Linked DNA regions of Homo sapiens: region 1 is linked to region 2. The links come from fine-mapping of genetic effects on gene expression. A gene starts in region 2. The other region holds a variant in brackets. All regions are shown on one strand. Distances are from middle to middle.

What was found. PIP is the estimated chance that this variant, and not a neighbour inherited with it, causes the effect.
Region 1: its variant is fine-mapped to the expression of LINC03023 in liver (GTEx, PIP above 0.99).

What each region holds. Positions count from the first base shown.
Region 1 is chr8:20,562,087-20,579,362 of GRCh38, reverse strand. No RefSeq gene overlaps it. Among named protein-coding and RNA genes, the nearest start is that of SNORD3F, 44 kb to the left of the region's middle. The variant G/A (reference allele first, on the strand shown) is at 8,581.
Region 2 is chr8:20,950,232-20,962,032 of GRCh38, reverse strand. LINC03023 (long intergenic non-protein coding RNA 3023) reads right to left here and starts at 8,400. Exons shown (of 5, transcript NR_130774.1): 1 at 8,340-8,400; 2 at 7,958-8,192; 3 at 6,199-6,348. It overlaps LOC105379316 (a long non-coding RNA gene), which reads left to right. Exons shown (of 4, transcript XR_007060845.1): 3 at 7,289-7,378; 4 at 9,117-9,388.

The DNA.
Region 1 (17,276 bases), 390 kb after region 2:
TCCCCTCATTAAAGACCTGATGGCTCACATTATCCAGGAGTCCTCCACTAGTAAGTCCCAACAGATGATTCAGCTGCTCCTTAATGAACACAAGGCAAATAAACAAGAAAACTGGCATATTATTCAAAGGAAAAAAGAATGTATTTTCTTTCTTTGAACACGAAGCGGGGCTGAAAAATTCTTTAGCTGGCTAAACTTAAGTCAAGATTCTGAACCTTCTCCTAGGCCCTTCTGTGAACTTCCTTGTCAAATTCCATTTTAGTAGAGAACACTGCCATGTCCATTCAGCAAGAACTCTCCATCCTCAAGATCTCGTTATGCTCAATATCTAATCACGTGTGGGTTTTCTTTTTTTTTTTGGTTTTGTTTTGTTTGTTTTGAGACAGAGTCTCACTCTGTTGCCAGGCTAGAGTACAGAGGCACAATATTGGCTCACTGCAATCTCCGCCTCCTGGGTTCAAGCCATTCTCCTGCCTCAGCCTCCCAAGTAGCTGGGATTACAGGCACGTGCCACCACACCCAGCTAATTTTTGTATTTTTAGCAGAGATGGGGTTTCACCATGTTGGCCAGGATGGTCTCGATCTCCTGACCTTGTGATCCGCCCACCTCGGCCTCCCAAAGTGCTGGGATTACAGATGTGAGCCACCACACCCGGCCCTGATCAGATTTTCATCTTCTACCATTCCTTAGGTGAAGTCTGATCACCTGGGCTGTCTTTAACCAGAATCATGTGAGATTGGTTAATACAGAATTGTCTTTACCCCTTGTCTTAGTTTGTTTTCCCCTGCTATAACAATACAACAGACTGGGTCATTTTTAAGAAATAGAAATGTATTTTGCTCAGCTTTCTGAAAGCTGAGAAGTGAAGAACATGGTGCAGCATTTGGCGAGGCTCATCTCATAGCAGAAAGTAGAATTGAGAGTGTGACAGACAGAAAATCAAGTACAAACTTATCCTTTTATCAGTTGCTCACTCTCATGGTACTGACATTAATCCATTCATGAAGGTGGAGCCCTTATTACCTAATCACCTTTTAAAGGTCTCATCTCTTAATATTATCACAATAGCAATTAAACTTCAACAGAAGTTTTGGGAGGGACATTCAAACTATAGCGCCCCTGATGCTTACTCTTAACAATTTTCCATCCACTAAGCCCCGCACTGCTCCTTGGCTGTACATTTCCACTTGTTCATGCTGTATTCAGAGTTGAGCCCAGTCTCTCTCCCCCACTATAAGACCCCATTGCAGTGGTTATATAGCTATTGTGATTGTCCTGAATAAAGTCTTCCTTACTGTATTAGTCCGTTCTCACACTGCTAAACTGAACTGCCCAAGACTGGGTACTTTATAAAGGAAATAGGTTTAACTTACTCACAGTTCTGCTTGGCTGGGGAGGCCTCAAGAAGCTTGCACATGAGGTGGAAGGTGAAGGGAAGCAATGCACCTTCTCTGCAAGTCGGCAGGAAGAAAAAGAACACAAGACGCACTACCACACACTTATAAAACCATCAGATCTCGTGAGAACTCACTCACTATCATGAGAATAGAAGGGAAAATCACCCTTCACGATTCTATTACCTTCAGTTGGTCTCTCCTTTGGCACGTGGGGACTATGGGAATTATAATTAAAGATGAGATTTTGGGTATGGACACAGCCAAACCATATAACTTACCATGCTTTAACAAGTACAGTATCATCAAATAATTTTTTCTTTAACACCAGAAGTAAGAGAGAAACAGATGTCCCGGTGCCAAAAGGCACTGACACTAACATGTAAATGACTGCTCCCAATCTCAGAAAATTAAGGACAGGATGACTCAAAGAGATGACAAGACTTCAAAGAATCAGCTGGAGGACCCAAAAAATAACCCTGCCAGCATCCCAGTTTTGCCTGGGTGACTCTGTTAACAGGTATCTACCTGATCCACACAAGGCTTGGCTGCAGGTATAATTTGAATAGATTGGCAACCACACCCCTCCTCTCCCAGCCCCTCCTCTCACATCCAGCCCTAGCACGTGGACTAGTCTTCCCAGCATGGAGTTTCTGGAGGGCACACATCCAAGCTAACAAGCAACAATACACTCAGAGTGCTTGATATTCCACGATGATCAAATTGGCTTTCCTGGAGAACCCAGAGATTAATGAAGCCTCCCACTACCTCCCCGTCACCCCCTACCTAGGAAAAGGCTTGCATGATTGTTCACTTCAGGGGAGGAAAATGAGAGAGATGTAACATCACACCAGGCTAAAACACTCATCGTAAATCATTTCTCCCAGACGTGACTCACTAGGGCTGTACATGGTTTCTTCATCTGAGAGGACAAGAAGACCCAGCTGAACTATTTCAGCACACACGAATGGCCTGCTCACTGGACTGCTCCCAAATCTCTGGCTTGTAGATTTTCAAGCGCAGCCTTTACCCTCAGGAGTAACATATTACCTAGCATGCTGGACCTGTTTTTGTTTTTCCTCCAAAAGCGTGTAAGACAATCTCTGCAAAGTGCCATGGTCTGTTAGCAGTGCCAGAACCTCTAGATTTTTCTTTGTACCTGTTCACAATTGTTATAGTTTATGCATTGAAAAGCATTTCCCTTTTAATTGATACCAAGGGGCAGCTCGCTCCCTTAAAGTGATTCAGGATTGGCACTGCTCGTTACAGGAGAAAATAGAAGGTGGGGCTGAAATGTAGCTAATTATGTCAGGCTCTAGAAAGAGAGCAGGCGAAAGCTTTTCATCTGGGACCTTTGCAGATTGCTAAATTAACAGTCTTGAGCTGATAAACCGGTTGGAGCCAGCCAATGGAGCACACCGGGATATAAAGGCCAACGCTGCTGGGGAGGTTTCTACTATCATCCGTGAGCTCTGTGAGGTGGTGAGGATTGGGCATGGGAGAGAGGGAGACGTGGGAGAAGTAAGTGTCCCTCAACCTCCCTGCCTACTTCTCCATAGTCTCATGATTTGAAGTCCTGGGAACATAGGTGAACCTGGAAGGCACTATGCTAAGTAAAATAAGCCAGTCACAGAAGGACAAATACTGTAGGATTTCACTCACATGAGGTCTCTAAAATAGTCAAACTTATAGGAACAGAGAGTAGAATGAGGGCTGCCAGAGGCTACAGGGAAAGGGAATGGGGCATGGCTATTCAATGTTATAAAGCTTCAATAATGCAAGATGAGTAAGTTCTAGAGATCTGCTGTAAAACATCATGCCTCAAGTTAATAATACTGTGCTGTAAACGTCATAATTTGCTAAAAGCGTAGACTTTATGTTAAATGTTCTTGCTACACGAAATTAAAAATATCCTGGCAGGGGCCGGGCGCGGTGGCTCATGCCTGTAATCCAGCACTTTGGGAGGCTGAGGCGGGCAGATCACGAGGTCAGGAGATCGAGACCATCCTGGCTAACACGGTGAAACCCCGTCTCTACTAAAAATACAAAAAATTAGCTGGGCGTGGTGGCAGGCGCCTGTAGTCCCAGCTACTCGGGAGGCTGAGGCAGGAGAATGGTGTAAACCCAGGAGGCGGAGCTTGCAGTGAGCCAAGATCACACCACTGCACTCCAGCCTGGGCGACAGAGCAAGACTCCATCTCAAAAAAAATAAATAAATAAAATAAAAAATAAAAATATCCTGGCAGGAAAAAACAAGGGGGTCAGCAAACTATGGCCAACTCTGGCCTACTGCCTGTTTTTACGTTTTTTTGTGGTTAGGAGTCAAAAAAAAAGAAGAAATATTGTTTTGCGACATGTGAAAATTATGTTAAATTTATATGTTAATGCTCTAAGTAAAGTTTTATTGGAACATGTATTATTTACACATTGTCTATAGCTGCTGTTCTACTACAGCAGCAGAATGGTGTAGCTGTAACAGAGACTGGCCCATAAAACCTAAAATATTTGCTATCTGGCCTTTAGAAAAAATGTTTGCTGACGCTATTTGCTGACCCCATTTGATGAGAGTTGGACTGTAGCTGTGAGGTATAGAAACTGCTTTGAACTTTGGGTGAAGAGATCTAGGTTTGATGCCTATTCCCAACTTTGGGGAAAAATTATATACCTCTCTGATGACAAGTATCTCCATTTGTAAAATGGAAACCATATATATTCCATAGATGTTGTTTTGAAATTTAAATAAGACGAGATACATGGGAGGAAAAAATTGGCACGATGCTTGGTATAGAGTAGATGTTCAATAAATAATAACAAAATGAATAAAAGAATACATTCACATATAACCTTTATCCTCTGCATTTTAAAGCTCCCATTTTGGTTCTAACTCTTCAAGAAACTTCCCCATCTTCCCAGCTAAACTTGTCCAAAATGGCCTCCTCCTCCTCTGAATGTCTGCAGTGTTTGCCAGACTTCTCTCTCTTTTCTACCTCGACAAGACCTCTTGGTGTTAGTTTCTATGGGTGTCTAGTTCATCTTCCCCTCCGGATTGTCAGGTCAGATGACACCATCACTGTTGTGCAGAATGTAGTTGAGAAGATGTGTACATGCTGTCTGTAAATGAGGAATGTCAAATACGGAGCTCAGACAACAACTTACAGAATTTCATAGAGGACTGAGGTGCTCAGTGAAGGCTCCACAGAGGAGGTGGGCCTGGAGCCGAGCTTGAAAGTTCACAGTGTTGCTTGTGCAGAATCTCCCCCAGAAAGAGACAAGTGGCACAAGCCGTGACAATAATACGTGAGCCAAGTATGGAGACTTATTTCAGGAATGCAGCAATTGGATTAGGGTGAAAGATGAAGACTGGTGTCAAATGAGTCAAGATACTTGGGGCTGCAAATGGCAGACAGCCATGTTCAAACTTGACAAAAACCTGAGAAAAATGTATCATCTCGCTTGACTAGAAGTTGAGAAAATAGAACTCTAGGCACAGTAGAACTTAGGTTCAGTTTCTCTGCAGTTCTCTTGACTCCATCCATCTTTGGGTAGACCTTGTTCTGAGACCTCGTTTCCCACGTGGCGTCAAGATGGCTGCCTGCAGCCCCTGCAGCCAATGTGCTCCCTTCCTCATACCCAGAAAGGCAGGGAGAGGGAAGACAGTCTCTCTCCTACCTGCGAAAGAAACGCCCTTTTCTTCTCTCTCACTGAGCCAGCTAGAGTCACATGATCACTCCCGGACCAATAGCAGCCTGACTTCCTGAACCGGTCTCCAGCAAGAGCCTGTAGTGGAATCACCATGACTGGCTTAGACTAATCAAGATCCACCCCAGCAAGAGCTTCACCCAATCACATAGGCTGCAAGGAAAAGGGATGGATTCCGGAATAAATTTGGGGTACTGTGAAGAAAAAGGAAGGAGGGCAAGATGCTGAGCAAGCTACTATCTGTCCTCTACAGCTAATAAATCACTACGAATGGCCTATTGAATGGGAATATCAAAATCAGAACTGCAGATGGTATCCTGAAGAAAAAAGTGGGTTTCTATGATTGCTCCCTGCCACAAGCAACTCAGACGTGGGTTTGTAATAGCCTGAACAAACCTCATAAAGTCTGGGCCAAAACATTTAGGAGAAGGAGGAGAGAGAAATAAGTTGTTATAACCCAGATTTCACTTTGACTTTCTGTGAAGCAGAGACAAAATACAGATAGATTAGATAGATAGATAGATAGATAGATAGATAGATAGATAGATAGATAAATATATATATACACACACACACAAACACACACACACACACGCACACACACACACACAGGGATTCACTCCACGACCTTTTATTGGCCCAAACGATAGCTTCAGTCTTTTAATTACTACTGCCCAGGAAAATAATTCCTCTCCTTGGCTTCCTCTCTACTGCAGCTTACCCAGAATAGCACATGCTGTATATTTTTTCAGAAATGACAGAAATATTCGTGGTGCTTGGGTTAAGTAATTAAGATTTGCTGTGGGAACACCAAGGAACCCCATTAAAATGGCTGTGTAGCTTGGCAAATTAACTACTTAGTGTTTAATTACTAAAAATTACTATCAATTACTAAATGTTACTGCAAATTACTTGCAGAATAGACACATTTGTTTGTGGGTATTAATGATTTCAATTACTCCTCATAGGTAATTGGTTTCTGTGCACACACGGGTATCAACTGTCGAATAGGAGCTCAGCAATAAACATTGTTCCTCTTCTTTTAGCTCATAGCTGAAAAATTAAACACTGGGCCCATAGTTCCTCTAGGTTTCTGTGCTACTTAACATTGCTTGCCTGAGACTCCTAGGGCTGGAAAGGACCTCAGAGACCTCTTCCAGGGAGCAGAGGAGGAAGCAGGACACAGAGGTTAGTGGTTACTCAGAATCACACAGCCAACACTACAGTATAGATCAACATCAAACACTTTCTGCACAGTGAAAGGATCTAGTCACAAAAGACCAAAACTGCCTGATCCAATTTATACAAAATGTCCAGAATTGGCAAATCTATAGAAATAGAAAGTAAATCAGTTGCTGCCTGAATCTGGAAGGCGGGGGAAAGAGCTGGGGAGTGAGAAGGGACAATTAGGGGAGTGAGGAGTGACTGCTAATGGGCACAAGATTTATTTGGGGGGTAACAAAGATGTTTTAAAATTAGATTATGGAGATGTTTGTATAACTCTATAAATACTCAAAACCATTGAATTATACACCTTAATTGGGTGATTATTGTGGTATATAAGTTATATCTCAATACAGCTGTTAAAACAAGTATTTTTAATCATATAATTAGAGAATGATAGGGCTGGATCAAAGAGCTGATGCTCCTGACTCCCGCTTTATCGTTCTTTCCACTGGACCATCCTGCTTCAACAGATGCCAAGCTTGCTGGAATTTGTAACTCACTGAAGAAGATGGCCATTAAGACTCATTGTTGAAATCGTGGTCTTATTTATGAAGGGCTCACTTCCAGCTATTTGTGGATTATTAAGAGAGTATAAACTATGTTCATTAAAGTAGCATAAAATGCAACCATAAAATGCATATAATAACTGAATACCAAATAAAATGATGTCTTAGCTTAGAATATATTCATCATGCATAAAACAACACAGAACTTGTGACAAGGGCTTGCCAGTATGTAGTTTATTTGGGATGGCAATCCTATGGAATGGGTTGGAGGGAATGGGAAGAGTAAAAAGGGAAAGGAGAAAAAGTCAATCCCAGTGTGTATGACTGAGTTGATTCAGTAGTCGCAAATAACTGAGACTCAATCCCACCAGGCCCTTGAAGAGTTGTGTACCCTGCTTCAGAATTGTCCACAATAAGGAGAGGGAAATATTCATGCATTGGCTCCTTATCCACCGGTAAAGAATTTGCCCAGACATTGTTTAACTCCCTAGCTCTTCCACATGGGTATTTGAACCAGCACAACTGAGCAATATCCCACAGCATCCTCCAAGGTAGACACAGAGAAGCTCAAGAGCAGAAAGTAAGAGAAAAGTCACAAGGCTCTAGCCACTCTGATCAGACTACCTGTGCATGCAACCTGCTGTTGCAGTAATTGCCAAAGTCACAGGTAAGTAAGTCGGGAAGGTGTAAGATGGAGGGTCCAAGATGTCCCACATATTATAAGAGAAACAGAAGCTCATCAACCACTCTAAGAAGAATCAAACTGAGGAAAAATTGAATTGGCAATGTGGGACGAGAAACTCCAGTCTAGAATAGAGTTCACCTATGCCTGGAAGATTGGAGAGCTGAATGGAATTCTAGCCTTCCAGCACTTTGGAGGAATATTACATTGGCCAAAAAGTCCTGCCTATACTTCTTCAAATAACCACACTCAAAAATAATACTTCTGGCCAGGCAGTGTCTCATGCCTGTAATCCCAACACTTTGGGAGGCTGAGGTGGGAGGGTTGCTTGAGTCCAGGAGTTCAAAACCAGCCTGGGTAACATGACAAAACTCTGTCTCTACAAAACATACAAGAAAAAAAAATGAGCCGGGCATGGTGGTGCACACCTTTAGTTCCAGCTACTCAGGAGGCTTAGCTGGGAGGATCACCTGAACCCAGGAGGTTGAGGCTGCAGTGAGTCATGATCATGCCACTGCACTTCAGCCTGGGTGACAGAGTGAGACCTTGTCTCAAAAAAAAAAAAAAAAAAAAAAAAAGAATACTTCTATACCCCTCCTACTCCCCAGCATCCTCCAGTATTCTTAGCTATTATCTGCCCAATCTTATTCCCTGGAAATTTTTCTTTAGATCGGTCAGCTCAATACCAGTTTGTATTAGTCAGGTTCTCTAGAGGGACAAAATTAATAGGATACACACACACACACACACACACACACACACACACACACACACATATTATATATATATTTAAAGAATAGTTTATTAAGTATTAACTTACATGATCACAAGGTCCCACAATTGGCTGTCTACAAGCTGAGGAGTAAGAAGAGCCAGTCTGAGTCCCAAAACTGGAAAACTTGGAGTCTAGTGTTCGAGGGCAGGAAGCACCCAGCATAGGAGAAAGATGTAGGCTGGGAGGCTAGGCCAGTCTCTCCTTTTCACGTTTTTTCTGCCTGCTTTATATTCGCTGGCAGCTGATGAGATTGTGTCCACTAGATTAAGGGTGAATCTGCCCTCCGCAGCCTACCG[G/A]CTTAAATATTAATCTCTTTTGGCAACACCCTCACAGACACACAAAGGATCAATACTTTGTATCCTTCAATCCAATCAAGTTGACACTCAGTATTAACCATTACACAGTTCAATATCTTCGCTCAACTCCACACATGTCTTCCACACATTGGAGAAAGGACATCCCATCAATAAATGGCGATGGGACAAGTGGATATACACCTGCAGAAGATTAAAACTAGACCCCTGGCTGGGTGCAGTGGCTCACACCTGTAATCCCAGCACTTTGAGAGACTTTGAGCACTTTGAGGTGGGTGGATCACTTGAGGTCAGGAGTTCAAGACCAGTCTGGCCAACATGGTGAAACTCTGTCTCTACTAAAAATACAAAAAAAAAAAAAAAAATAGGCTGGCATGGTGGTGCACACCCGCAGTCCCAGCTACTCGGGAGGCTGAGGCAGGAGAATCACTTGAACCCTGGGGGCGGAGGTTGCGGTGAGCCAAGATCACACCACTGCACTCCAGCCTCGGTAACAGAGTAAGACTCTGTCATAAATAAATAAATAAATAAATAAAACTATACCCCTATCTCTCACCATATACAAAAATCAACTCTAAATAGATTGAAGACTTAAATGCAAGACCTGAAACTATAAAACTACTACAAGAAAACATTGGAGAAACACTGCATAAAATTGGACTGAGTGCAGATTTTTTCAATAAGACCTCAAAACCACAGGCAACAAAAGCAAAAATAGGCAAATAGGATTACATCAAACTAAAAAGCTTCTGTACTGGAAAAGAAACAATAGAGTGGAGAAACAACCTACGGGATGAGAGAAAAACTGTGTATCTAACAAGTAGTTAATATCCAGACTATATAAGGAACTCAAACAACTCAATAGCAAACAACAATAATCATCAGATTTAAAAAGGGGGAAAAGCCTGAATAGACATTTCTCAAAAAAAGACATACAAATTGCCAACAGATACATGAAAAAGTCCTCAACATCATTAATTATCAGGGAAATGCAATTCAAAACCACAATGAGATATCACTCTGCCCCAGTTAGGATGGCTATCATCGAAAAAACAAAATGTGACAAGAGCTGGTGAGGATGTGGAGAAATGGGAACTATTAGGTACTATTGGTAGGAATGTAAAAAAACTATAGCCTTTATAGTATAGTATGGAAGTACCTCAAAAAATTAAAATGTAAACTATTAAATGATTCAGCAATTTCATTGCTAGGTGTATATCCAAAAGAAATGAAATCAGTATATTGAAGAGATATGTGCACTCCTGTGTTTACTGCAGTGCTATTTACAATAGCCAAGATATGAAATCAACCTAAATGCCCATCTACAGAAGAATGAATACAGAAAATTTTATATATATATATATATACACACACACACACACACACACACACACACAATAGAACACTATTCAGCCATAAAACAGAATGAAATCCTGTCATTTGCGACAGGGTGAATGAACCTGGAGGACATTATGTTAAGTGAAATATGCCAGGCACAGAAAGACCAACACTGTATGTCTAGCTCATATGTGGAATCTTAAAACGTTGATTTCATAGAATTAGAGAGTAAATAGTGATTACCAGAGGCTGGGAGGCAGAGAGGAGAGTAATGCAAGAGGTTGGTCGATAGTTACAAAGTTACAGTTAGACTGAAAGAATATGTTCTTGTGTTCTATTGCACAGTAGGGTGATTATAGCAAATAACAATGTAGTGTATATTTTGGGAAAACTAGAAGAGTTTGAATGTTGTCACTGCAAAGAAATGATAAATGTTTAAAGTGATGGATCTGCTAATTACCCTGATTTGATCATTATACAATGTATACATGTATTGAAACATCACACTGTACCCCATAAATATGCATGCTTATTATATATCAATTACAGATTTAAAATTAATTTTTAAAGAGAAACTTAAAATGTTAAGTGGTGTATGAACCCAGAAAATCTCACTGCAGAACCTACACTCTTTTCCACTTGTACCAAGCTGCCTCATAGATGTCAGGGGGAGAACAACTGAATGTTTGAGCAAAGTTTAATGCAGAGGCTGTTTTACAAAGTTAGGAGAAGCATTAAGAGAAGTAGTGAAATATGTCAGGACAACAAGGGCTGTTCCCATCCCTTGGCTCTCAAGGCAAAGGAGGGAATAGCCGCCAGAAAGACACTAGAAAGTTATAGGTGACCGCAGCCCTGGTGAAGCTGTGGCCTTACACAGAGAGATCAACCTCTGCCAATCTGCAGGACAGAAGGAAAGAACCAAAGGAATAATTATTCCAACCTCTCTCTCTGATTTCCTGTTGGTGCCTCCCATCGGCTAAACCCAGGTAGAAACCAGAGGGCAAAAGGGCAAATTGAGACAGTCCCCAGAGGTCAATGTCCCTGGACTGAGAGCAAAGATTGGGGTAGAGAAGGATGTGGAAGACAAACAGAGGAGATGCAGCATGAAGTCTGAGCTAAGATCTAAGCACTGCTCTGATTTTAGCTCTCCAGTGTTTTTCCTCGAGGGGCTCAGAGTTGCTTTATACTTAGGCAAAGGGGACAGCTGTCCCAATCCGGTATCTAACTAAGAGGAGCCATACCTAAAAGAGGAGCAGGTGCAGTATCTGCCAAGGCCATCCCTAAATGACATCATCGAATGTTCTCATCTTCAGCACAATCAACCCAGCATGGCAATAAGGTCCCAGTTGCTTCCCCTAACACAGACATGCCTTTGAAGATCTGCCTCACTCTAATAATCGTAAATGACCCTGGGGAACAATCCCTTTTGAAAATGAGGCTGACCAAAACCTGTATTGGGTATATATAACAGTTCTGAAATTCCTCTCTAGTAAGCACAAAAGAGGACTTTCAGATCTTGTCTATACATACTAATATAAGCAGTTCCAATAAAGGTATTGGAATACAGGTCTTTAGGTCTTGACTATGCAGAACTAATTTAAATGGTTCCAAACCAAAAAGACTTGCAAGAAACTCTTCTAAAATACATCCTATAATTATATACATTTTTCCTATTCTAACTTAAATGAGTCAAAATGTGGAAGAAGTGAAAGAGTGACCTGACCATCGTGGTTTTATCTGAGCCCCAGAAACACCGAACAGGTCCCTAGCAAGCCAAGGCCTCACATGTGTCCGTTCCATGTTGACTGAGTTTGCACTCTAAACCAGGCACTGTGCTAAGCACGTAACTAGCAGTCACTGCTATAGCCCTCACAGCAACCCTAAGAATAAAGTACTATTTTGAATCCCATTTCATGAACAAGGAAACGGAGGCATGTGGTGATCAAGTCAGAAGTGATTCAGTGATCTTGTTCACTAGACTAAGATCACAGGAGTACACAAATGAAAAATAAGACAATGAATTTTAGCTGGGAACAGATGACACTGACAAAACAATCTGTGGGAAGTGAATGGCAATAAGAATTAAGGTTCCAATGGTTCAGAAAGTAAGTTATTGGGGTGGGTGGGGGCACTCAGGGGAGTTTTGCCCAGGGCGGTAGAAACCAGGCTGAGGACCAGGAGAAAGACAAGGAGGGGCAGTGGGTGGGGAAGACAGTGAAGGTGGAGTCTTGGAGAGGGGGTGGCCCTGGTGGACTTGACCAGGACAGTGAGGAGCTGGGCTCCTGCAGAAGTGTCAGTGGTGAGGCGGCAGATCAGAGAGGGGATCTTGACTGCCCTTTCCATCCTCTCCCAATTGCTGGCTCCCTGCTGTGGGTCTGTCTCTCTGCCTCACACATCAATGAGCCAGCCCTGATGCTCACTTCCCTGCCTCTCGGAGCCCTGTCCAGTCTCAGACTACACAATTCCCACTCCCTGCAGGCTCTGTCTGACGGGCTGTAAATAGCCTGTTTGAAAAGTAATTGCATGTTTGGGGCTGGTGCTTGCCATGTGTAATTGCTCATTCTTTCTCCAGCCACTTCCTCTCTTCCTACTTCCCAGGTTTGTTTCCCAGGATAGGAGCCTTCCAGGCAAGTGGCTGGAGGAGATAACGAGGCCCTCTGAGCCTCACGATTCAACCAGACTTTGCTGCCCAGGGAGCCACCCTGCACCGTCTACCTGCCCTAAGCAACGGGATAGAAAAGGGAGAATGGACTCATTCCTTTCTGAAAGATTCTCTGGGCATCATGGACTGGTACAAAGACATCTCCCCAGATCTAGGGCACATGGACTCTCTTGCCCTGGCACTTGGGCAGCACAGGCCAGCCCTCTAATGATGTCAGTCTTCTTGTCTGCTATACTTCTGATAGCCCCCTTCTTCCCTAAATCCCTCGGATCTCTAATACTCAGGATTAATTTACTGAACATCTACTATATGCCAGTCTGTCCTGAGAGCTTGTTTTGGTATATTTCCCCTCAAAGTTAGGCACAGCACAGAGGCACACAGTGACATAGCCCCACACCCTATACCTTACACCGCTGCCTCCATTGGCCTGGTCCTGCACAGAGATAGCTGAGCAGAAGTGAAGCAAGTCCTGCGGGTACCCAGCCACTTCCCATATGCACTGGGTCACACTCTAGCCATTGGCGCCCTCAAACAATGACTGAGAGGAGTTGATAAACAAATATCCATCCTCTCTTACCTCTCAGACAAGATAATCTTGAAGTGCTTATTCAACACTGGCTTCTAGATTGCTGTATTAGTCCATTCTCACATTGCTATAAAGAAATAGCTGAGACTGGACAATTTATAAAGAAAAGAGGTAAAATTGGCTCACAGTTCTGCAGGCTGTACAGGAAGCATAGCAGCTTGTTTCTGGGGAGGCCTCAGCAAACTTCCAATCATAGTGGAAGGCAAAAGGGGAGCAGGCATGTCTTACAAGGCCAGAGCAGGAGCAACAGGGTGGGAAGGAGAAGGGAGGTCCCATACACTTTTATATAACTCATTCACTGTCACAAGAATAGCACCAAGGGAGAAATGTGCCCCCATGATCGAATCACCTCCTGCCAGGCCCCACCTCCAATGCTGGGGATTACAATTTGACATGAGATTTGGGCAGGGAAACAGATCGCCCAGAAAAATTATGTTCCAGATGCTTACAGTGCAAACTTGCTTGAAAACACAGTCTTTATTGACCTTTTCCCATTCACTGTCTACTTACCGGCATAGCTGACATCTCCTTCAAATAAAATATTGGTACTTATATCCTTGTCTCAGGGTCTTCTTGGAAAATCTTAAGTCAGTCGGTACCAGAAGTAGTATTAAGAAGGAGACTCTCAGAATGGAATTCTAAAATTAGATCACTTGCTGGCCATGTGACAAGGGTTCCATTACTGATAATAAATAGAGTAAAATAAGACACAACACGGTTGTATAAAATTTATCATTTTATGAAAGTGTTTAAAGAAGGCCTTATCTCCTGCAGATGAAGAGAGGACTGCCAAAAATCAGGCCCACAGTCTGATTTCCAAACGTCACAGAATTTTCAATATGGCTGATTTCACAGCTCTGGTAATTTTCCTATGCTAGAGTCAGAAAAGGGATGCCTGGAATAGGGTCATCTGGGTGGCTGTACTGAAACCACATTAATTGGACTCGATGAGTGAAAAATAGCAAGATCTCTGGATACCTTGTAAAGACACATGTGCACCAGTTATTGGGAAGTAAACCTGCAAAGATCAAGGAGCCGACTCCATCCCTGAAGATTTTAGAGGCCCAGTGGGATGCAGTCTGTCAAGCCATTCTCTCCAAGGTAAAGGATAAATTATTGTATATTGCATCTCTTACCACCTGGAAAAAGATTCAGCACTTGTGGGCTTCTTTGGATTTTTGATGGCAGCACATGTCCCTCTTAGGAATACTGCTATGACTCCTGATGACTTAGAATTGTCAGTTTTGAGTGGTGAGCAGGGCCAAACAGCATTTTGCAATAGGTTATGGTACAAGTGGCCCTAATGATTTGCCCATATAATTCATCAGCTTCCATGATTTTTAGACATATTTGTGGCAGATAAGAGTGCTTAATGGCATTTCTAGAAAGCCTGAATTGTAGAGTTGAGGTGCAGAATCCTAGGGCTTTGGAGCAAGACATCTACAGGAGAACATTACTCACTATTGAAAAGGCAGCTCCTGGCATGCTACTAAGTCATCTGGCTATGCAATATCCATGACTATATTACTGTAGGTGCCAAAGATGAGCTGGATATTTTCAGACACATTAAGTTATAAGGTTGAAGGGGCACAGCAGCAATCCATTCTACAATGAAGGGTGGTCTGGACCCCCATGCCAGCTACCTCTGTGCACTGAACCTCTTTTTTGGCTCATATTTCCGGCCTCCTCAGCTGACTAGAGTGTACAACACCTAGGCTTGGTTCATGATAGGGTCAGCTTGCTATTTTTCCAAGAGTGTAAAAGAGACTGCTGTAATAACACAGCCCCCTCAGGAATAGTTCTGAAAGATGGTGGTACATGGAAAACCCTCCAGGGGGCAGAACTTTGAGCAGTAAATATCTGAATGGAGAGTGAAGCAGCCTGAGGAAAAGATATCTGTCTCCCCTTAGGCAGTGGCGAATGGATTGAATCATTGCTTGGGGGCCTTGGAGGAGTCACTTTGAACAATCCGAAACAAAGAGGCCTGGGAATAAAGCAGGGTGGACTCATGGGAGTGGGCACAGAGTGTGTGGAGAAGAGAGCATTCACCTGAGAAGATGCTCTCAACCAGCAAGTGGACATGAGGACACATCCCATGGAAGTGCTTCAGCCCCCATCCTCAGCCATTTCTTGCACAATGGGCCTGTGCATGGAGCAGTCACAGAGCAGAGGTAGAGGATATGCATGCATGGGCTGAGCAGCATGGGTTCCGTGTCAGCAAGCCTGATCGTTGCCACTCTTCTGAAAGTCTGACCTGCCAACAATAGGAATTATTGATACTGTGCCCCCGACATGGTGCCGTCTCTCAAGCAGATCACATGGTCCCTTAGTGATAAGATGTTCACACTGGATCCCTATTTCCTGGAGAAGACAGTGATTCCAGATGGATGTATTTCAGATGTATTTGGGGTGTTTCATTGCCTTTCCCACCCACAGTGCATTTGTCAGCTCCACAATCTGAGGCCTTACAGAGCATCCCGTGTTTCATAACAAACCTCTAAACATCCCCTCCGATGAAGGAGTCCACTTTGTGACAAAATTAAGTATGACAATGTGCACAAAACCTCTAAGCCTGCAGAGGCAGATGTGACATTTAAAATCTATCTACAGATAGTCTTATAAGGTAACACGCTCCCATGCTGAACCCCAGACTCCACAGCTGGCATTGCCCATGCTGCAGCCATTGGACAGTGGTCACCCACAGCTGCACCCAGAATCCAGAGGTCTCCACAACCATCACTGCTGCCAGGGAACTCCTCACCATTGCTGCTTCTTTACCACGCGAGCAGCTGATTCCAATCTGGGGCAGGTGTGTTTGACCACAGCTGCACTGGATGCGGTGTCCTACCTGTGAAAGAGGCTAGAAAATGCCCAAATGCCCTTTCTGTGAAGGATGCTGGGAAGTACATTTTCAGATTCTGTAGCAGACAGAGGGCTCTAACTCTCACCAAGACTCAATGAGATGTAAAATTCCTGAACATAGAAGGCGGGATTTGATGCTGGGGAGCCAAAATAAACGGCAATGTCCAACATGTACCTTCTTTTAAACTCAAAACAGTTGCATGTATTAGCTGTGATAAACCCATCTCAGCCTCAGTTTCCTCCTCTGTAAAGCTGGGGTGTATGACTGGCTCGCGGCCCCCCAGGAAAGTGGTAGAGAAGGATTCACACTCAGTGTTCCAATTGCTACTCCTATGTTCATCCCATGACATCGTTTGCCTTTCTCTTGAGGTTCTTTCCCCTCTATCCCTCTTGAAAGCATTGTGTCTGGCCCTGAGGGTACGTTCCCTGTCTACGATCCCCTCTATTTTTCCAGAATGTGTGACTCAAAAGAACTCCACAGTGAAAACCAATCATAGATTCCCCTCTCTCCCTAGTGGTTGCAGGAGAGCTTCTCGGGGTCTCTGAGGAGCTGAACCCACAGACAGCTCCTGAGGCTTCTTTATGGGCTGCTCTGCTTTCCTGCTGCTTTGGGAGGCTGTTTCCTCACCACTCATTATGGTCTCTGCAGTATGTAAGTTCTGTAGCCAAGGTTCATACAACTGGGAGTGTATTTATGGCAGTCCATACACTTTCTTAGGAAAATATTGATTTTCTAACAACAGAGTGACTGCAGAGCCATTAAATCAGACTAGTCTATCATAAACTCCAGGATTAACCAAAGAATACTTTCACCTTTTCCTTCATCTTGTCATGAGCCACGGGGCCGGGCGGGGGGGGCGGGTAGATACCTCCACTTCAGCAGGTAGGATTACAGCATTTATTACATGATTTGAACAAACCACCACAATTCCCCATCCTGATTGCCAGATAAGTAATTAACCATTCTGCTCTTACTTTAAAGGTTGACTGACAGGAATAAGGAAGGCTGAGTTGTCTATAAAAACATCCAAAAGCTCGCAATGGGAGTTGCATCCCATTACTGCAGGATGCAAGAGGAGAGGGGGAGTGGACTATGATGGCATTGGGGGTCTGCTCTTCAGCCCTGCCCCAACCGGAGGATCTATGAGCTCATTATCCGCCTGTTAAAGTCTTAGTTAGAGGAGTCATCAGTGAGGTGAGGATTTCTTTTTTTCCTTTTTTGGGGAAGAT
Region 2 (11,801 bases):
GCAAAGGACATGAACTCATCCTTTTTTATGGCTGCATAGTATTCCATGGTGTATATGTGCCACATTTTCTTTATCCAGTCTATCATTGATGGACATTTGGGTTGGTTCCAAATTTTTGCTATTGTGAATAGTGCCACAATAAACATACATGTGCATGTGTCTTTATAGTAGAATAATTTATAATCCTTTGGCCCAGTAATGGGATTGCTGGGTCAAATGGTATTTTGAGGAATTGCCATACTGTCTTCCACAATGGTTGAACTACTTTACACTCCCACCAACAGTGTAAAACCGTTCCTGTTTCTCCACATCCTCTCCAGCATCTGTTGTTTCCTGACTTAATGACTACCATTCTAGCTGGCAGGAGATGGTATCTCATTGTGGTTTTGATTTGCATTTCTCTAATGACTAGTGATAATGAGCATTTTTCAAATGTTTGTTGGCTGCATAAATATCTTCTTTTGAAAAGCATCTGTCCATATCCTTTGCCCACTTTTTGACGGGGGTTTTTTTTCTTGAAAATTTGTTTAAGTTCTTTGTAGATTTTAGATATTAGCCCTTTGTCAGATGGATAGATGGCAAAAATTTTCTCCCATTCTGTAGGTTGTCTGTTCACTCTGATGATAGTTTCTTTTGCTGTGCAGAAGCTCTTTAGTTTAATTAGATCCCATTTGTCAATTTTGGCTTTTGTTGCCATTGCTTTTGGTGTTTTAGACGTGAAGTCTTTGCCCATGCCTATGTCCTGAATGGTGTTGCCTAGGTTTTTTCCTAGGATTTTTATGATTTTAGTCCTTAACGTTTGAGTCTTTAATCCACCTTGAGTTGATTTTTGTATAAGGTGTAAGGAAAGGGTCCAGTTTCAGTTTTCTTCATATGACTAGTCAGTTTTACCTACATCATTTATTAAATAGAGAATCGTTTCCCCATTGCTTGTTTGTGTCAGGTTTGTCAAAGATCAGATGGTTGTAGATGTGTGGTGTCACTTCTGAGGCCTCTGTTCTGTTCCATTGGTCTATATATCTGTTTTGGCACCAGTACCATGCTGTTTTGGTTACTGTAGCCTTGTAGTATAGTTTGAAGTCAGGTAGCATGATGGCTCCAACTTTGTTCTTTTTGCTTAGGCTTGTCTTGGCTCTGCAGGCTCTTTTTTGGTTACATATGAACTTTAAAGTAGTTTTTTCCAATTCTGTGAAGAAAGTCAATGGTAGCGTAATGGGGATAGCATTGAATCTATAAATTACTTTGGGCAGTATGGCCATTTTCATGATATTGATTTTTCCTGTCCATGAGCATGGAATGTTTTTCCATTTGTTTGTGTCCTCTCTTGCTTCCTTGAACAGTGGTTTGTAGTTCTCCTTGAAGAGGTCCTTCACATCCCTTGTAAATTGGATTCCTAGGTATTTTATTCTCTTTGAAGCAATTGTGAATAGGAGTTCACTCATGGTTTGGCTGTTTGTCTGTTATTTGTGTATAGGAATGCTCGTGATTTCTGCACATCGATTTTGTACCCTAAGACTTTGCTAAAGTTGCTTATCAGCTTAAGGAGATTTTGGGCTGAGACAGTGGGGTTTTCTAAATATACTATCATGTCATCTGCAAACAGACACAATTTGACTTCCTCTCTTCCTATTTGAATACCCTTTATTTCTTTCTCTTGCCTGATTGCCCTGGCCAGAACTTCCAACACTATGTTGAATAGGAGTGGTAAGAGAGGGTATCCTTGTCTTGTGCCAGTTTTCAAAGGGAATGCTTCCAGTTTTTGCCCATTCAGTATGATATTGGCTGTGGATTTGTCATAAATAGCTCTTATTATTTTGAGATATGTTCCATTGATACCTAGTTTATTGAGAGTTTTTAGCATGAAGGGGTGTTGAATTTTGTCAAAGGCCTTTTCTGCATCTGTTGAGATAATCATGTGGTTTTTGTCTTTGGTTCTGTTTACATGGTGGATTACGTTTAGTGATTTCCATATGTTGAACCAGCCTTGCATCCCAGGTATAAAGCCAACTTGATCATCGTGGTGGATAAGCTTTTTGATGTGCTGCTGGATTTGGTTTTCCTGCATTATATTAAGGATTTTCACCATTCATGTTCATCAAGGATATTGGCCTGAAATTTTCTTTTTTTGTTGCTTCTCTGCCAGGTTTTGGTATCAGGATGATGCTGGCCTCATAAAATGACTTAGGGAGGATTCCCTCTTTTTCTATTGTTTGGAATAGTTTCAGAAGGAATGGTACCAGCTCCTCTTTGAACCTCTGCAAGAATTCAGCTGTGAATCCGTCTGGTCCTGGACTTTTTTTGATTGGTAGGCTATTAAATTACTGCCTCAATTTCAGAACTTGTTATTGGTCTATTCAGGGGTTTGACTTCTTCCTGGTTTAGTCTTGGGAGGGTGTATGTCCAGGAACTTATCCATTTCTTCTAGATTTTCTAGTTTATTTGCATAGAGGTGTTTATAGTATTCTCTGTTGGTAGTGTGTATTTCTGGGAGATCAATCAGTGGTGATATCCCCTATATCATTTTTTATTGCATCTATTTGATTCTTCTCTCTTGTCTTATTAGTCGGGCTAGCGGTCTATCTATCTATTTTGTTTATCTTTTCAAAACACCATCTCCTGGATGCATTGAGTTTTTGAAGGGTTTTTCATGTCTCTATGTCCTTCACTTCTGCGCTGATCTTAGTTATTTCTTGTCTTCTGCTGGCTTTTGAATTTGTTTGCTGTTGCTTCTCTAGTTCTTTTAATTTTGGTGTTAGGGTGTCAACTTTAGATCTTTCTTGCTTTCTCTTGTGGGCATTTAGTGCTATAAATTTCACTCTACACACTGCTTTAAATGTGTCCTAGAGATTCTGGTACGTTGTGTCTTCATTCTCATTGGTTTCAAAGAACATCTTTATTTCTGCCTTCATTTTGTTATTTACCCAGTAGTCACTCAGGAGCATGTTGTTCAGTTTCCATGTAGTTGTGTGGTTTTGAGTGAGTTTCTTAATCCTGAGTTCTAATTTGATTGCATTGTGGTTTGAAAGACTGTTTGTTATGATTTCTGTTCTTTCTTTTACATTTGCTGAGGAGTGCTTTACTTCCAACTATGTGGTCAATTTTGGAATAAGTAAGTGCTATGTGGTGCTGAGAATAATGTATATTCTGCTGATTTGGGGTGGACAGTTCTGTAGATGTCTATTAGGTCTTCTTGGTCCAGAGCTGAGTTCAAGTCCTGAATATCCTTGTTAATTTTCTCTCTTGTTGATCTATCTAATGTTGAAAGTGGGGTGTTAAAGTCTCCCATTATTATTGTGTGGGAGTCTAAGTCTCTTTGTAGGTCTCTAAGGACTTGCTTTATGATTCTGGGTACTGCTGTATTGGGTGCATATATATTTAGGATAGTTAGCTCTTCTTGTTGCATTGATCCCTTTACCATTATGTAATGGCCTTCTTTGTTGGTTTAAAGTCTGTTTTATCAGAGATTAGGATTTCAACTCCTGCTTTTTTTTTTTTGTGCTTTCCATTTGCTTGGTAAATATTCCTCCATCCCTTTATTTTGAGTCTATGTGTGTCTTTGCATGTGAGATGGGTCTCCTGAATACAGCACAGAGATGGGTCTTGACTCTTTATCCAATTTGCCAGTCTGTGTCTTTTCACTGGGGGCATTTAGCCCATTTACACTTAAGGTTAATATTGTTATGTGTGAATTTGATCCTGTCTATTTTGCCCATTAGTTGATGCAGTTTCTTCATAGTGTCGATGGTTTTTGCAGTGGCAAAACTGCACGTTGAGTGCTTCCTTCAGGAGTTCTTGTAAGGTGGGCCTGGTGGTGACAAAATCTCTCAGCATTTGCTTGTCTATAAAGGATTTTATTTCTCCTTCACTTCTGAAGCTTACTTTGGCTAGATACAAAATTCGGCGGTGGAAATTCTTTTCTTTAAGAATGTTAAATATTGGCCCTGACTGTCTTTTGGCTTGTAGGGTTTCTGCAGAGAGATCCACTGTTAGCCTGATGGGCTTCCCTTTGTGAGTAACCCAACCTTTCTCTCTGGCTGCCCTTAGCATTTTTTCTTTTATTTCAACCTTGGTGAATCTGACAATTATGTGTCTTGGAGTTGCTCTTCTCGAGGAGTATCTTTGTGGCATTCTCTGTATTTCCTGAATTTGAATGTTGGCCTGACCTGCTAGGTTGGGGAAGTTCTCCTGGATAATATCCTGCAGAGTGTTTTCCAACTTGGTTCCATTCTCCCCGTTCCTTTCAGGTACACCAATCAAATGTAGATTTGGTCTTTTCACAGTCCCATATTTCTTGGAGGCTTTATTAGTTCCTTTTTATTCTTTTTTCTCTAATCTTGTCTTCTCTCTTTATTTCATTAACTTGATCTTTAATCTCTGATATCCTTTCTTCCACTTGATTGATTTGGCTATTGATACTTAGTTGGCTATTGATACTTAGGTATGCTTCATGAAGTCCACGTGCTGTGTTTTTCAGCTACATCAGGCCATTTATGTTCTTCTCTAAACTGGTTATTCTAGTTAGCAATTTGTCTAACCTTTTCTCAAGGTTCTTAGCTTCCTTGCAGTGGGTTAGAACATGCTCCTTTAGCTCAGAGGAGTTTGTTATTACCCACCTTCTGAAGCCTACTTCTGTCAGTTTCTCCACCCAGTTTTATTCCCTTGCTGGCAAGGAGTTGTGATCCTTTGGCAGAGAAGAGGCATTCTGATTTTTGTAATTTTCAGCCTTCTCGCTCTGGTTTCTCCCCATCTTTGTGGATTTATGTTGGTGACCTTCAGATGGGGTCTTTCAGTGGACCTGCTATTCCTTTCTGTTTGTTAGTTTTCCTTCTAATAATCAGGCCCCTCTGCTGCAGGTCTGCTGGAGTTTCCTGGAGGTCCACTCCAGACCCCATTTGCCTGGGTATTACCAGCAGAAGCTGCAGAACAGCAAAGATTGCTGCCTGTTCTTTCCTTTGGAAGCTTCATCCTGGAGGGGCATCTGCCAGATGCCAGCCAGAGCTTTCCTGTATGACGTGTCTGTCAGCCCCTACTGGGAGGTGTCTTCCAGTCAAGGATACAGGGGCATCAGGTACCCAACTTCAGGATGCAGTCTGACCCTTAGCAGAGCTTGAACGCTGTGCTGGGAGGTCCGATGCTCTCTTCAGAGCCATCAGGCAGGGACATTTAAGTCTGCTGAAGCGTGCCCATGGCTGCCGCTTCCCCCAGGTTTTCTGTCCCAGGGAGAAGGGGGTTTTAATCTATAGGTTGACTGGGGCTGCTGCCTTCTTTTCAAAGATGCCCTAACCCAGAGAGGAGAAATCTGGCAGTCTGGCCACAGTAGCCTTGCTGAGCTGAGTGGGCTCCACCCAGTTTGAACTTCCAGGTGGCTTTGTTTACACTGGGGGGGGGGTAAAACCACCTTCTCAAGCCTCAGCAATGGCAGATGCCCCTCCCCAAGCTCGACTGTCCCAGGTTGATCTCAGGCTGCTGCTGTGCTGGCAGTGAGAATTTCAAGCCAGTGGATCTTAGTTTGCTGGCTCTGTGGGAGTAGGACCTGCCTAGCCAGACCACTTGGCTCCCTGGCTTCAGCACCCTTTCCAGGGGAGTGAATGGTTGTCATGCTGGTGTTCCAGGTGCCACTAGGGTATGAACAAAAAAACAGCTCTTGCAGCTAGTTCAGTGTCTGCCCAGATGGCTTCCCAGTTTTGTACTTGAAACCCAGGGTCCTGATGGGGTAGGCACCAGAGGGGGTCTCCTGGTCTGCGGGTTGTGAATGCCATGGGAAAAGCACAGTATCTGGGCCGGAGTGCACGGTTCCTCATGCTCAATGCCCCACCCTGTTTTGGTTTGCCCTCTGTGGGCTGCACCCAGTGTCTAACCAGTCCCAGTGAGATGAACTGGGTACCTCAGTTGGAAATGCAGAAATCACCTGCCTTCTGCATCAATCTTGCTGGGAGCTGCAGACTGGAGCTGTTCCTCTTAGGCCATCTTGCCAGCCGAGACCTTATCTTTCTTTTATAGATGCAATGTCTGAAGTAAATTGCAGCACCTGCACACCACATCAAGTTGGTTGACTTGAAAGTCTTTTCCTCTTACCAGTATTTCTCCACGTGAGAGAGATGTGCCCTCTTTTAAGGGAACAACATTTTGCGTGGATCCCCTTAAATAGTTTTAAGACATCTGAAAACATAAAACTAGATATTAATTTATTATACTTATGCCCTTAAATAGTTGTAGCACCTGAGTCTGTCAGGATAGGCAGTAATAACAAAAGTCCTCAAATCTTAGTGGCTGCAAACATGTATTGTTTCTTGGAATAGCAGGGAGCTCATCTGACCCAGCAGCCACCAATACTGCACCAGTCAAGTCCTGGCAAGAGACAAAGAGGACACCTAAACTAAAGACTTTGAGGAGAAGTTTATTATTTATTTGTACTACTTACCAGGCAAAGAGGGGGGTTAGGCAAAGTGGTAAGAAGTTATAGTTTAGTACCAGCAGGCTAGAAATGCCTAGCCACCCTTACCCTGAAGGGACAAGGTGGGGAAGCAGTTACCAGCACCTGGACAGTGACTGACTGACAGAGGGTTGCAGCCAACCCAAATGGACCTGGCACACGGAGCCAAGAGACTTATGCCTACTCTTTTGACCCCATTCGCCTCCTGCCCTGCAGTTTCCTGCCAGAACGCCCCATTGGCCAAATCCAACCGGAAGTTAGAATGGAAGGGAGACCATGGACCCATTTTCTCCAGACCTGCTTCCAGCGAAGGCACAGAGGAGTTGGGACGCACCTGGAGCAGCACACAGGGAGATACTTAGTGCAATCTCAAACGTTGCTAGAGGCAAAAGCGGTACTGGAGAGACTCACACTGCAGCTAAATGCTATGAAGTGTCACTTCGCACTCACAACTCACTGGCCAGAACTAATCATGTGTTCTGCACAACAGAAGGGGGCCCCACCGTGGCATTTTACCACATGTCCAGAAAGAGAAGAGCAGGCTGTCTGTGGCAGCCACAAACCCAAAACAAATTTAAAGATTAAATACAAAGAAGATGACAGAATCCAAACAATTCAAATTAACAAAATTAACTCAATATTACAGTCGGTATTGCTTTGCTAAAACTCAGTCAACCACCCAGGACATGAGCACATCCAACAGGTCCTCTGAGTTTGGCTTGCCTCTGCTTCCACCTGCCTTGTGAAAGTTCAATTCTCCCACGAACACACCAGCATCTATGAAGTCATTTGGTTTTCACTTGGCAGAAGTGTGCCATTTACATTGCAATTTCCCCTCTGTTCTTTTCTATCTAGGCTGCGTCAATGATTGTAGTGCTAATTGTTACAGACATGACCACAATGCCAAGGCGAATGGGGACAATGAAATCCATGGCTGGTTTTAAGGTAGTTATCTATATGGTCGGGAAAAATGCTTATATTAATTTTTTTGGATTGCTATTGAATCGAAAACAAAGTTAAGCAATTCTCCTGGAGAAGCCAGAGATCCCTTAGAAACAGCTTCTACTAGTCCTTTCTTTTTCCTCCTTCTCACCCCAGCACAGGAAAGGCGGAGGTGCTAATACCCTAGTCCCCCTGGCAGGTGTATCTCTTGGTCCTTCCACCCTTATTCCTCTGCTCTCTCACCTTCTCCTCTTTGCACTGCATCAGTGCCCTCCTTAACTCAAGAGCCCTGGCTTTTCTGTATCCTGAGCTGCTTCCTGACTCAGGCTGATCCAGAAGGTTCTGTCTCCATCCTTGCCCATCAGCCCTGATGCCTGGGATACTCTCTTCATTCTTTCCAACCCCAACTATATTAAGTAATCCCTGAGTCACACATCTGAACATGTTTCTGCCATATAACGACAAGCTGAGGTTTCCTGAGAACATTTTCTTACTCACTACAACTCTCTACTGATATCACCCTCTCACATCTGCATGACCAGAGCAGTCCAGGTCTCCAAGCCCTGTATAGTACATACCTACCTTAGAGGCCTCTGGATCGGCTTCAAATGATCTCTTCACATTCCAAAATTGAATGCAACATTTTATGTGTAGGTATTCTAGTACATCTTGTTTGTGGGAGGAGAGGTTGTCCAGAATTTCATCAGATTCTCAAAGAGGTCTGGGACCTAATGAATGCTGATGTCTTCTGTTTTACACTGTTCATTTAAAACTTCATGATACTCATTTCCATTTTACAGAAAACTTCTCTATACTTCTGTTAAAACAAAATAATGTAAGATCCTCCATTTATATATGTAAAATATATATATATATATATATATAGTAGAATGCAGACACACTATATCAAATACTGTCTGTGGTCTACATATAGCCAAGTGTCCCTTGTCCTTCCTGTAAGAACCTGATTTTGAACGGGTTTTCATTCTCCAGTGCATCAGATACTTTGGCTTCCTTCTTCTTCCAGTGGTTAATCATGATTCAGCTAAGCTATATGAGTATTCTATTGTTGCACAACAAATTACCACCAACTTAGTAGCTTAAAATAACACATGTGTGATGTCACAATTTCTGTCAGTCAGGAGTCTAGCCATGGCTTACCTGGGCCCTCTTCTCTGGGTTCCACAAGGCTGGACTCAAGAGTCAGCCTGCCTGTGTTCTCATCTGGGAGTCTGGAGAAGAATCAGCTTCCAACCTTACTCAGGTTGTTGGAAGAATTTATTTTCTTAGGTTGTGGAATATAGGGCTTTTATTCCTTGCTGGCTGTTGGCTTGAGGCTGCCCACTTAAAGAAAACCTTTCCACCTGGCTTAATTCATCAAGCCAGCAAGCAAAAAATCCTAGGGAGACAGAGCCTTATATAAAGTGACGTAATAAAATCACAAACGTGACATTCTAACAAAACATACTCAAGGATGTGACTCACACACCTTTGCCACCTTCCATTGGTTAGAAAAAGTCTCCTATCTCACACTCAGGGCAGGAGGGATTATACAAAGGCGCGGATAGTGCGGATACCAGAAGACAGGCAATATTGGGGGGCCACCTTAGGGTTTGTGCACAACATAAACCAGTCTGATGATTTTCATTCTCTTGACAGTGACTCATTTATTCATAAGCTTGGGACTCACACATCACCAATGAGAACTGAGAGGATGTCTTACGTTTCCTTCCATCTACAGGGCAGGTGCAGAGGATCCAGCATGTTATTCTGAAACCCCAGAAGACGCTGCAGCTACCAAATAGAAGGAGCCTGGATCCCTGAATGTCTTCATGGAACAGAACATTCTCCTCACTCCAGTCTGTTTGAACCAGAATATGACCTGAGCAAGAAATAAGCCTTAATTATATTTGACCATAGAATTCTGGTGATATTTCTATGGCTGTAAGTCCATGTTGATTAATACAAAGGGATGCTGTAAAGCCTCTTCTATTAAAAAAAGTTGCCCAAGGAGTGAAAGGAGAGATATTTTCTGTAATTAAGATTTTCATAATACATAGAACAGGCTATAGCACCTGGCAATCAATCATATGGGGTACAACAGAAAGAGGAAACATTCCTGCTATTAAATTAACCAAACTGGAGTTCTTGTTATATAATATAGTAAAATTTCCTCAATCTTTCAGCCACCTTTAGTTCTGTAATCTATTATTTCTGGGTAAAAGCATACCATTTGATACACAATCCAAACCCAATTCTTAATTAATAACGTGTATCCACTGTATCTTACCACATCCCAAATCATCTAATACTTAACCACCTAGTTTCTATGTTCCACTTACATCAAACATATTCATGTTTGGAAAATTGAGCCAGCATCTACTGCCTTATCAGCTGATGCATAACAATTTACTTTGTCTGTGCTCTATAATAATGCAAGTCTGCTTGGAAAGATAACACGTTAAAGGGTTATCAGACCCTAACACCTTCGTATAGATGAATTTATCAGATCCTCTGCTAAACCACTTTCGAATCCTTGGCCAGTTCTCTACATTTCATGAAGAGTTAGCATAGCCAGTCCAGGAGATATTATCTTCAGGATGTGGTCAGTTGTGGAAAGGAAGATAGCTCTGAGGATCTCTTTCCAGGGAAAAGAAAGACATGAGGATTGCTCCAAAGATCCTCTTTCTGGGGGAAAACGCACATACTACAGAAAGGCTACAGAAAAAAAAGCACTCCCTCAGCAACATATTCACAATCTATTTTGTTGGAATTACAGGCCAATCCTTTTCAGACAGTTGAGTCCAGAGAGGACTGGGAGACTGCCTGACCCCATGGGGTGCTTGACAAGGTCAGATTCCAGGGCCTGGTAGGCTGTTAAAACCAAAGGGGGCCAGTGCTCATGGACAGTGAGTTAAGAGGCTCCTGACACTGGGGGTCCTTTCAGAGCACATACAGAAGGAGGAGTGTCCTTCTGTTACACAACCTGAATTACTGGAGAAGGGCCCGCTGGTGTCGTTCTCCTCAATACAATGCACCTCCTACAATGCACCTCCACTTCTGGGAGAGGGGAAGGGGGAAAAAGAGACAGAGAAGGAGGGAGAGAGAGAGAGAAAGAGAGCGCTGTCTCCCTCCCTTCCTTCTTCCTTCCCTTCTCTCTTTCCCTTCCTCTTATCTCTCTGTGGATCTCTTTCAAGTATTCCTAGAAGAATCTGGAGCTAAAATGAGCCTGCGTCTGAATTTTACTCCTGGCTCTGCAACTGATAAGCTATGTAATCAAGTCCCTTCCCTGCTTCTTTCTTTCTCACACACACACACACACACACACACACAGTCTCTCATCAAATGCTTTGTGGGTTCTTACTCTGACAAGCCAGGCATTGTGCTAGTTACAGGAGATAATCTGAAAGAAAATAGCTCCTTCTTATAAAATGATGATAGACCAGGTGATCTCACAGGTATATGTTGATGATGGCTAGTTTAGTCTTGCTAGCTCTGCTCATGCACCTCCCTCCTTCAATCATGTACCTCCCTCCTTCAAATCAATATCCTCACCTGCTTTCCCAAAGCCCTCTTGCTATTCCTTCTCCCTCTGAGGTACCATTTTTAGCCTAGTATCAAAAGGCACCACAGCTCTTTCCGTCCCCCACGCCACCCATCCTCTTCCCCAGCATCAACACCAAGCTGCCCTGAATGCTATGCTTTCACTCTTTCCATCAGCATGCAGTTACTAATCCCTTAATGTGACCGGAGCAGAAGTCTAAATAACTGCTCCATAATCCCCTAGTATTTGAGCATCCAAAATAACATTTGCATTTTCATCAGGGTCTTAAATGGTCTGGTGGCTTTCTTTTTATAAATTAGTAATTTAAGTATTTATTTTTTAAAAATTCAAACACAGATATAGATATGTTTATGTAGGACTACATAAAGATTTATAATTTTATAGAATTACATAAACGTGATTATATTATATATAGCTTTTCATTTTCTTTCTCTCTCTCTTTCTTTTCTTTGTATCTTCTTCCTCTCTCCAACCTCCTCCATACTAATAATTCTCAGCCACAAATCCTCCACAAAACCATGGAACCCATGTTAACCTTTTATGTATCCTTCCATATTTTTCTCTATTTGTCTAGACTCACACCAGTGTCTAATGACATATGTGAAGGGATGTTCTTGGAGTACTCTTGTTCGTGGCAAAGAATGATTGAATGAATTCTGGTACAATAATATATTTCAGTTAGGCTAGGCTGCTTGTTGATATGGAATAAACAACTCCAAAAGCTTAATAACTTAAAACAATAACAATGGATTGATTGCTCATACTATATGTCCAAGTCAAGCCAGTAAAGGACTCTATTCCTCAGGGTCATTCAGGGACCCAGGCTGATGGAACAACTATTACCTTAAATATTTCCAGTTG